Regions from separate parts of the Homo sapiens genome. Here region 1 is linked to region 2. A link means that fine-mapping ties the variant in region 2 to the expression of a gene that starts in the linked region. Tissue or cell type: putamen. Region 2 holds a variant in brackets; the other region holds the start of a gene. All regions are shown on one strand. Distances are between the middles of the regions. Region 1 holds the start of TULP1 (TUB like protein 1). Region 2 overlaps TEAD3 (TEA domain transcription factor 3).

What was found. PIP is the estimated chance that this variant, and not a neighbour inherited with it, causes the effect.
Region 1: it holds the start of TULP1, and the variant in region 2 is the best candidate, but not a certain one, in a credible set for the expression of TULP1 in putamen (GTEx, PIP 0.63).

What each region holds. Positions count from the first base shown.
Region 1 is chr6:35,509,914-35,514,913 of GRCh38, reverse strand. It overlaps TULP1 (TUB like protein 1), which reads left to right and starts at 2,018. Exons shown (of 15, transcript NM_003322.6): 1 at 2,018-2,102; 2 at 2,224-2,275; 3 at 2,644-2,734; 4 at 3,108-3,266; 5 at 3,904-4,053; 6 at 4,986-5,000. The coding sequence starts at 2,056.
Region 2 is chr6:35,487,206-35,492,659 of GRCh38, reverse strand. All of the region lies in intron 1 of TEAD3 (TEA domain transcription factor 3), which reads left to right. Among named protein-coding and RNA genes, the nearest start is that of TEAD3, 7.1 kb to the left of the region's middle. RefSeq lists enhancers at 1-336, 337-912, 2,065-2,640, 2,641-3,216, 1-3,308 and 2 more. The variant G/A (reference allele first, on the strand shown) is at 2,710.

The sequences.
Region 1 (5,000 bases), 22 kb before region 2:
AAGCATGTAAGCTGCACGAGGGCGGGGACCACATCATGTTGTTCATCTCTGTATGACCATTATTTAGCATAGCGCTTGGCACACAATAGGTGCTCAGGAAATACTTGTTGACTGACACTCAGCTGTCAGTTTCCTCACCTTTAATATCAGGGTGTTTTCGTTTGGTTGTTTGGTTGTTTGGTTTTGTTTTTGAGACAGGGTCTCACTCCATTGCCCAGGCTGGAGTGCTGTGGCACTGTCTTAGCTCACTGCAGCCTCTGCCTCCTGGGCTCAAGTCATCCTCCTGCCTCAGCCTCCCAAGTAGCTGGGACCTCAGGCATGTACCACATTGCTCAGCTAATTTTTAAATTTTTTGTAGAGACAAAGTCTCACTATGTTGCTCAGCCTGGTCTTGAGCTCCTGGGCTCAAGTGATCCTCCCAAAGTGCTGGGATTACAGGCATAAGCCACTGCTCCTTGCCCTAATATCAGGGTGTTAATGTCTGTCTCATAAATATTATTGTGAGGGTGGAGTCAGAATGGGAGCAAGCCACAGTAGGTGGACAATAAATGCTATTATTATTATATGGTCAGAGCCAACTGAGGACTGAGGCCTCTCCGAAGTGGCGACTTGAGGACTGTTTAGAGTTGGATAGGTTTCATGGAATAGGGAGGGCGTTCCGGGAGGGAACAGCCTGAGCAAAGGCATGGAGGACAGAACTGTAAAGGCAGTAAGGAAACCTCTGTGGCTGGATGAAGAGTATGGCTTGGGATAACCCTGTGGTTAGAAAGGCAGACTGGGGCCAGATCAGGGAGAGCCTTGAATGTCAACCCAACACATTTAAACTTAATCCTTAGGCAGTAGGGAGCCAATGAATGTTTTTGAACAAAGGTGGCAACCGAAGAAATAGTATTTTAGAAAGTTCCATTTGATATGGATTTACTGTAATTAGCCAGGATCGTGCCACTGCACTCCAGCCTGGGTGACAAGAGCAAAATTCTGTCTAAAACAAAACAAAACAATACCACAAAAGCATGTCCCCTATCAGTGAAAAAAGAAAAAGAGTTAAGGGTATACCTCCAATACAGACATATTCTTTTTTTTTTTTTTTTTTCTGAGATGTAGTCTTGCTCTTTTTGGCCAGGCTGGAGTGCATTGGCAAGATCTCGGCTCACTGCAACCTCCGCCTCCCAGGTTCAAGTGCTTCTCCTGCCTCAGCCTCCCCAGTAGCTGGGACTACAGGTGCCCACCACGATGCCCAGCTAATTTTTTATTTATTTATTTATTTATTTTGAGACGGAGTCTCACTCTGTTGCCCAGGCAGGAGTGCAGTGGCATGATTTCCGCTCACTGCAAGCTCCGCCTCCCAGGTACACGCCATTCTCCTGCCTCAGCCTCCTGAGTAGCTGGGACTACAGGTGCCTGCCGCCATGCCCGGCTAATTTTTGCATTTTTAGTAGAGATGAGGTTTCACCATGTTAGCCAGGATAGTCTCGATCTCCTGACCTTGTGATCCGTCTGCCTCGGCCTCCCAAAGTGCTGGGATTACAGGGGTGAGCCACCGCACCCGGCTAATTTTTGAATTTTTAGTAGAGACTGGGTTTCACTGTGCCGGCCAGGCTGGCCTCGAACTCCTGACCTCAAATGATCCACCTGTCTCAGCCTCCCAAAGTGCTGGGATTACAGGTGTAAACCACCGCACCTGGCTCTAGTTCTTATTTTTTGTGAGAAATAAAGATAAATACAGGATCCAGTCTAATGTTTTCTTCCACATCCCATTGACAAATGACTAATCGGCCCCTCTCACCCCAAGCTTCTGGGGGCTTCTCGGGGCAGGTGGAGCTGGTGGCCATCCTGCAGGCTGCTGGGGATCTGAGAAGAACTGGAGTTGAGATTCTTCCCCCAGTGGCCTGGGCCTAGCAGGGGAGGGTCGTGGGCTGTAGCACCTCCCACAGCGCGGCCAGGCCTCCACTCCTTGAGCAGGGGGAAGGGGGGTGAAGTTGAGCCGAGATTAGCAGGAGTCGGGAGGGAGGCTCCTAGACCTGCAGAGAAAGGGGTGCGATAGGCAAAGGCACCATGCCTCTGCGGGATGAAACCCTCCGAGAGGTGTGGGCCTCTGACAGGTCTGGAAGGCCCCCAGTTCGTGGCACCTGAACCCTGGGGGGCCTAGATGGAGGGATGGGGAGTGGGTGGGATGGGGAGGGAAGGGGAAGGGAGACAGGCTGATCCCTTTGCTACCCTCAGTGGGCATGAAGAAGAAAGCCTGAGCCCGGAGGCCCCGCGGCGCCCCAAACAGGTATGCCACCCCACTTGGAAAGGAAGCAGAAAGATGTCCCCGCTGTGCGTAAACCCACGCAGGGTAGGGGGTCTAGGGGTGGGACAGGTCCCCCTTAGCAGGGTCTGGGGGTTGCATGTCTGGAGATCTGGGGGGAGAAAGGGCTGTTTGGGGACTTGGGGTTTCCAGGGAAGGAATAGGGACTTTGGAGCATTGGATATGGCCACGATGCATGGAAGGGGTCATCCTGCCTCACTCCAAGAAGGGGGCTGCAGTTCCCCCCGGATAATCTGCGGTTATTTCTGGCGGCTCAAGGGATTAGAGGGGGATGGGCGGGCCTCAGCGCCCCCCTTTCCTTCCTCGACCTCCTCTTGACCCCCGTTCCGCAGCGACCCGCCCCGGCACAGAGGCTAAGGAAGAAGAGGACGGAGGCCCCCGAATCCCCCTGCCCCACGGGATCCAAGCCCCGGAAGCCCGGAGGTGGGCGGGGTGCAGAGCCCGGGTGGACCCCCAGGGTGTGGGCTGCGGAAGGGAGGGGCTTGAGGGCCGGCGCGGGTGTCGCCGAGCCCTGGAACGGGGTGGGGGAGGAGGGGGCGGGGAGTGATGAGAGGGGAGGGATTGGGGTTGGGGTTGGGGTTGGGGTTGGTGTAGAAGGGGGTGGCGTTGGGGTAGAAGGGGGTGGGAAGCTGAATGGAAGCCGGGGAGAAGTGTTGAAAGTGGAAACCCAAGCCCAGGGGAGATCCCTAGGGTGAGGAGCCCGAGGGGGTGCGCCCAGGCTTGGGGGTAGCGGGTAGAGGCGCTGCCTCGCGGACCCGCGGATGGGACCCTGTCTGAACCCCGCATCTCGGCTCAGCTGGGCGGACGGGGAGGCCGCGGGAGGAGCCTTCCCCAGACCCAGCCCAGGCCCGGGCGCCGCAGACGGTCTACGCCAGGTTCCTCAGGGACCCCGAGGCCAAGAAGCGCGACCCCCGGGAAACCTTTCTGGTAGCCCGTGCCCCAGACGCGGAGGACGGTGAGAGAGGGCCCCAGGGACGCGGGTGAGGGGGCGGTGGAGCTAAGGAGAGAAGGGGCTGGCTGGACGGGAACGGCCCAGAGAGGCAGAAAACAACTGTAGTCAAATAGCCCCCACTTTTCTGGCCTTATCTTTGAGCCAGGTATTGTGCTAAGCACCAACTATGAGAGGGTGCTTTGTTCCCCCCCTCCACCATTGTACAGATGGAGAAACTGAGTCATAGAGCCGTTAAGGGTTTTTGCCTTAACCAGCAGTTAGGAGCCAGAAGTAGCCCAGATGGGTCTGACTCAAGGTCAGAAACAGACAAGGTCAGGGAGAAGCACAGTGGATGCAGGGAGATGGGGAAAGGAGGCAAGGCGAGCGTGTAAGGAGAGGAGGGTCTCAGGAGGAGAGAGGGAGGGCATTTCCCCAGGACAGGATTCCTCCAACCCCAGCCACTCCCCTGATTTGCAGACCCTGAAGGCTGCCAGTCACCCTCATTCTTCTGGGAAGGTGCCAGGTCTCCGGTTCTTGTTTCAGAAGGGCAGGCTCCCCTTCTGGTGCCCATGCACCACTTCCCAGCAGTCTGGAGGAACTGGGCTCCCCAGATAAGGAGGGCCCGGCTCAAACCCCCATTATGAAGAGTTTCTACCTGCAGAGGAGGAGGAGGAAGAGGAGGACGAGGAGGACGAGGAAGAGGAGGCAGAGGAAAAGAAAGAGAAAATCCTTCTGCCTCCCAAGAAGCCCCTGAGAGAGAAGAGCTCCGCAGACCTGAAGGAGAGGAGGGCCAAGGCCCAGGGCCCAAGGGGTGGGTGCTGAGGGTGCTGAGAGAGCTCACAGGGAAGCAGAACAGCCCTGTCCTTGGAGGGCTTGGCGTCTCACTGAGACACAGCGATTGAGGCCTCAAAATGAACCCAGTGCTGTGACCGGAGGGTTTTTCCTCTGATAATTTCTCCCCACGATGGTCCTTAAGGACATAGACCAATATATGCCTCCACCCCTGGCCCCACTGCCCCTGCCCCTTGAGCTCTGTGAGGCAGAGGAGGACAGAGGATTCTAGTTTTCTTTGTGATTTTTGTTTAGTTTTTGTTTTAACTCAGTGGAAATTGTTATCATTTTTATAAAAGTATCAAAGTGATTACAGTAAAAAGAAATCAATGAATCAATGCTGTGATGGTGTCCTGGCCTGGGCACATTACCTGTTAGGGACCAGCAGCCTGGCCTAGAGCTAGGACCTTGGGCCTCTGAAGCAGAGATAGCACACTCTGTAGTGGTGACCAGAGAAGGTTTCCTGGAGGACATGGGACAAAAGGCAGGATTCAGAGGCTCGGTTAGAAGGCCTGGTGTTCATTCATTCGGGAACTGCTTGTTAAGCTCCTGGTCTTTGTCCAGAGCTTTTTTGGCCTCAGGGAAAGAAAAACCAAAATGAGCAGAAGTCAATACAAAAATTAGCCAGGGGTGGTGGCGCGCGCCTGTAATCCCAGCTACTTGGGCGGCTGAGGCACAAGAATCACTTGAACCCTGGAGGTGGAGGTTGCAGTGAGCCGAGATCCTGCCACTGCATTCCAGCCTGGGCAACAGTGAGACTGTCTCAAAAAAAAAAAGAAAAAGAAGGCAGGCTGTGGGCCCCTGTCAAGCTTTCAGCCTCCCTGGGGACTATAGGCAGGACAAGAGGGTTGGAAGGCAGCCTTCAGCCCCAGTAGACACCTTCTTTGCCTGACCCCCATCTTCCATTTCCAGGAGACCTGGGAAGCC
Region 2 (5,454 bases):
AGAGAATCTCCAGTCCCAAATTGGAAGCACATTAATAAGCAGGGCGGGGGGTGGGGAGAGAGTGGAGGGGCCCCCACCTCCCTCCTAGTGGGCTCTGCAAATTGCTTCCTCCTGTAAAAATTGAGACCCTGTTCCAGGAAGGAGGGAAGCCCTCCCCAGCCTGGCAGGGTGTGGCTGCTTGGCAGGGTCCCTCCGGGGTCCTTGGGCTGGAGGTGGGGGAGACAGATACATCCCTACTTGCTCTGCTGCCCCAGAGCATGGCTACTTCTAGGGTGGGAGCTTCTGGCAGCTGGAGAACAGCTGGCCCGCTGTGGGGCGGGTAGGGGAGGAGGGAGGAAAAGGCAGAGAGGGTGGGAGCCTCCCTTAGCCCTCCTCAGCTGCCCTCCCCATCCTCGACCCCCCCGGCTGGTCAGCCCAGCTCAGGTTTGAGGGCAGAGATTTGGGAGGAAACTGCTGATTTCACTGATCTTGCCACATTTTGAGTGATGTTCTCACTCCAAGTGAGAATGCTTTGGGGGCTGGGGTCCCTGCAGGGGTGGACTGCTGGCTGCTAGACCCAGGAAGGTCACAGCTCAGCTCGTCCTCCCAGCAGGGCTGGTGCAGGGGAAGGGGTAAGACAGGAGGTGCCCACTCACCCAGACTGGCTTTTTCTGTGCCTCCTACCAAGGCAGTGGCTCTGGGGCCCCTAAAGGGAGCTACAGGGCTGGGTGGTCTGGAGGCTGCAGGGTCTGTGGGGGTGGGGGACCAGGGCCTCTGCAGCGGCCCCAGCTCCAGCCTGATCCCTGGAGCTGTCCAGCCAGTTCTTCCAGCAGGTCTTGCCCCAGGGTGGGGGTGGGCAGCAAGGTGCCCCTTATCTTCCCCAGGGCCCCAAAGCCTGCTCACCCAGCCTCCTAGCCCCCATCCCTGCCTCCACCCAGAGGCCTTCTGAGCCTGAAAGGCTGAGGGCCCTGGGAGAGGGGAAGCGGGTGTGGCTGGTCAGGATGAGGGTGAAGGCAGACTGAGTCCCCTGGGGGTCTGCAGCCTGCTGGCGGGTTTGCAGGACAGGTACAACAGGACTCCTCTGCAGAGGCAGATGGGAGGGGTTCTGAGAGGAGGTGGAGGGTAGGAGCCCCTGAGATGGGAGTGGGGGTGTCCTGGATGGTGGCCAGCCCCAGCCCCTGGCAGTGGCCTCCCTTGTCACTCCCTCCCTCTGTTTTGCCTTGGCCTCTGGGTCTCTGTCCTTGTCCCTGTCTTTTTCTTTCTCCCCATCCCCTCCTGGTCTGCCCCTCCCTCGATGCCTATCATATCTGAGTTTCTGGTCTACCCCTCTCTGCTGTGTGTCTCTTTCTAGGTCTTTGTTGGTTGCCTTGTCTGTGCCCCTCCCCTGCCCTCCTTCTCCCCTTCTCCCTTCACCCCCCACCGGCTCTGTCTGTCAGTCTGTGGGTCTGAGGGTCCAGCACTCCCCCGCCCTGCCTCCACATCTCTCCTGGGGTCTCTCCCTTCACTCTGCGGGGCTCTGGTCTGTCCCCCACTGGGTTGGGCTTTCTGTCTGTCACTCACTGGGACTCTCCTGTCTCTGGTCTGTTTTCTCTCTGGGTTCACCTCAGCTTCTCTTTGCCCCAGACTCTCCCCCAGCCTGTCTCCCCTGCCCCTCCTGTCTGTCTCAGGCCCCACCCCGGCCTTGGTCTCCCTCCCCTTGACCCTCACTTGGGTCTCCTCTCTCTCCTACCCCTCTTCATGGCACAGCACAGCGAGGCAGAGTTTCTAGATACCTGGGCATCATCAGCCAGCAGCCCAGGGCTTGCCCTCTCGCCCGCAGTCAGCTTTCTCTAGATGTCCCACCCCTCCACCAAGCCAGAGTCCCACATTTGCCCCAGCCCAGCCCGCACCTGTCCAGGGAGCCATAGCCTCCTCTCTCAGCCCGGCCTGGGTCCCAGCAGTTAGAGGATCTAGGGAGAAGAAGGCGGGCACATGCTGGTCTCTAGGAGAACAGAGCAGCCAGTGCTCACGCCTCCTGCAGACTCCCTTCCACTGAGACCCCGGTCCAGCCCCCAGACGGGGGCAGCTGCCTGCCCACGACTGCCCATGTGTGTGCCTCAGCTTGGGGGTGCACATTCTCACGTGGTTGTCCTCCCGAGCACTCGCACAGCCCCTCTGCACAGTGTGCTCCTGTGCATGGCTGTGTGTGGGGAGTGCCACTTGCCCCTGTGTTGGTGCCTCTGCCCCAGGAGCGTTCCTAGAAAGTGAGTCTCGCATGCGTCTAGGAGCCAGCCGAAGGGAGGGACGGTGGTCCTATTCTCTCCTTGACACGTCCTTTGGGCCGTCCCCCCTCCCCTCCCCCTCACCAGCTGCCAGCGGTCCCAGCCAGGGGCCGCCTGCCCCGCCCCCCCAGTCTGTCCCAGCTCCCAAGCCTGCTGCTGTGTTCGCCATATTTGGCCACAGTGCTCCCGCGGGGGGCGGGGCGGGGCTGACATCACCCTAAGAAGGGGGGGCCACAGCCTGCTTGAGGGGAGGCGGGCAGGGACTTGGGGGAGGCAGGAAAGTTGCTTTAAAAGTCTGGGGCTGCCTGGGCCGCTGCTGCTCGAGGGAGGCCTCGGGAAAGGGGTTAAGAGGGGCCTTAGCTCATTGTAGCCCCTCTTCTCCCTCCCCTCTAACAGCTCTGTGGCAGTGTCAGACTGACACCTGTGGACAGGCCCTGCATCCCAACTATTTCAACAGGGGAGTCCCTAG[G/A]TGCCCCCACCCAGCTAGCACACCCCTGTCCCCTTAATTTTTTCTTTTTGTTTTTTTAATTTAAATTTAATTTTTAAAAATAGAGACAAGGTTTTCACTATGTTGTCCAGGCTGGTCTTGAACTCCTGGCCTCAAGTGAGCTTCCCAGAGTGCTGGGATTATAGTCGTGAGCCACCACCCCCCACATTTCCTTATTTATTTATTTATATTTATTTTGTTTACCCCTCACATTTCTATTCCAAGAATTCCCCTCTCGTTGAGGAGTAGGGCCTGGGGCTCTGGATCCAGTTTCCTGGGGTGAGGGACAGGCTGGGAATGAGGGCATCTGGCCCCTCTGACAGGTCAGGGGCACAGCTCCTTCTGGCCGCCCACTGGCCATGGGAGAGAGATTCCTGGTGGCTCTGGAGGCATCACAGAAAGGGCTGTACGGCAGTGCGGGGGTCTTCAAGTTGCTCCAGTTGCTTGGGTTGAGGGGGACCTCCTGGGCAGACTTAGGGCAGTTGCTGTGACAGCTGAACCTCCTTTCTCTCTCAGGTGGTGGGGTCTCTCAGCACCCTCCCTATAACCTTCCTGGTTATAAAACCGAAGCCAGCTTACCTGGGTTCAGAACCCAGCCCTAGTACTTACTTGTTGTGTGCCCTAAGGCAAGTTGCTTAACTTCTCTGTTTCTTGGGTTCCTCATCTATAAACTAGGAATAATAATAGTATCTGCCCCATAGGGTTATTGTGAGGATTAAATGAGTCAATGTGTGTGAAATCCCAGAACAGTGCCTGGCATATGACAGGTACTGTTAGTAGTAGTAATATTAAGTCTAGACTCAATAGTTTAGAATAATTACAATAACTAGTTGAATAGCTGAATAACTAACTGAATAATAGTTTAGAATAATCAAGGGCCGGGCGCAGTGGCTCACGCCTGTAATCCCAACACTTTGGGAGGCCGAGGCTGGCGGACCATGAGGTCAGAAGTTTGAGACCAGCCTGGCCAACATGGTGAAACCCCGTCTTTACTAAAAATACAAAAAATTATCTGGGCATGGTGGCATGCGCCTGTAATCCCAGCTACAGGTGCGTGCCACCATGCTGAGGGGGGAGGCTGCATGGGAGTCTGAGGCAGGAGAATCGCTTGAACCCAGGAGGTGGAGGTTGCGGTGAGCAGAGATCGCGCCATTGCACTCTAGCCTGGGCGACAGAGCAAGACTCCGTCTAAAAAATAAAAAACAAATAAAAAATTTAAAAAAGAAAAAAAATAACCGAATAACTGGCTGACATTCAGACCTCCCAGGCCCTCCCCACCTCATTCTACTAGTGATCCCCTCAAGCCTCCCTAAGCAAACAGGTGGCTCTGCAGAGAGAGTCCACCCCGACTCAAGCAGCAGGACCTGGAATTCATCTTCCTCTCCCTGGCTTCTGACGGTGTCCCCTACATCTCCACCCCTCCCCTTTCCCTGCTGCCCAGAGCTAAGTCCCAGGATCCAGCCATCATGGGCTCTTAGGTTTCCAGGACCCTGAATACATTGGACATGTGGGTTCTGGGGCTGAAGGGGATTTGGGGTGAGTCTTGGGGTTGTGAGTGATAGGGGGCCTGGTGGGGTGTGGTCCAAATTAATAGCCTGGCAGGTTCAGGGCACTCACAGTTTACAGAGCCCTGGCCCACATGTAGGATGGGCCAGGGCGGGGGCGGGCGTGTTGGTGGTTTACGGGCTGCTGTGGGGCCTGGAGGTGCGGGAACAGGAAGTGGGATAGAGGAGCGGGTGAGGTTGAGCCAGGCTGTTGGCCAAGCACCTTCTCTGCTGCTCCCTCACCAGTTCCCTTTTTGTAATTCCTGGGGCAGTTCCTGCCCTACATTAGGCCCCTTGGCAGAGTTCTGGTTAGTTATCGATTTGGGGGAAGATAAAATGGTGCCCTTCTGGGTCAGGGACTCTCCTTGTCCCCTGAGGGGTCCTTAGCAGGGTTGCACTGATGCTGGGGCGAGAGTGAGGGGTGGAGGTCCCTGACTGGGGATGTGGACACTGGGGAGGAGGAGCTGACAGGGAGAGCTGAGGAAACACAGCCCTGCTCCTCTGCTCCTCCTCTCTGTGCTCCTCAGCATGCCTTTGGCAGCTGCGTGACCTTGTGAGCCTTAGTTTTCATCTCTGGATAATGGGCTTTATTCCCTACCTTCCCTGCTTTAGTGTTTTTTGTTGTTGTTGTTTGTTTGTTTTTGTGTGTTTTGTTTTGTTTTTTTTTGAGACAAGGTCTGCTCTGTCACCCAGGCTGGAGTGCAGTGGTGCTATCTCCACTCACTGCAACCTCTGCCTCTGGAGTTCAAGTGATCTTCGTGCCTCAGCCTCCTGAGTAGCTAGGATTGCAGGAGTATGCTGCCATGCCCTGCTAATTTTTTTTTTTTTTTTTTTTTTTTTGAGGAGTCTCGCTCTATTGCCTAGGCTGGAGTGCAGTGACGTGATCTCGGCTCACTGCAACCTCTGCCTCCTGGGTTGAAGCGATTCTCCTGCTTCAGCCTCCTGAGTAGCTGGGATTACAAGTGCGTGCCACCATGCCCGGCTAATTTTTGTATTTTTAGTAGAGATGGGGTTTCACCATGTTGGTCAGTCTGGTCTCAAACACCTGACCTCATGATCCAACCACCTCGGCCTCCCAAAGTGATGGGATTATAGGCATGTGCCACTGCGTCCAGACCTGATATATTTTTAGGTAGAGATGGGTTTTCACCATGTTGGTCAGGTTGGTCTTGAGCTCCTGACC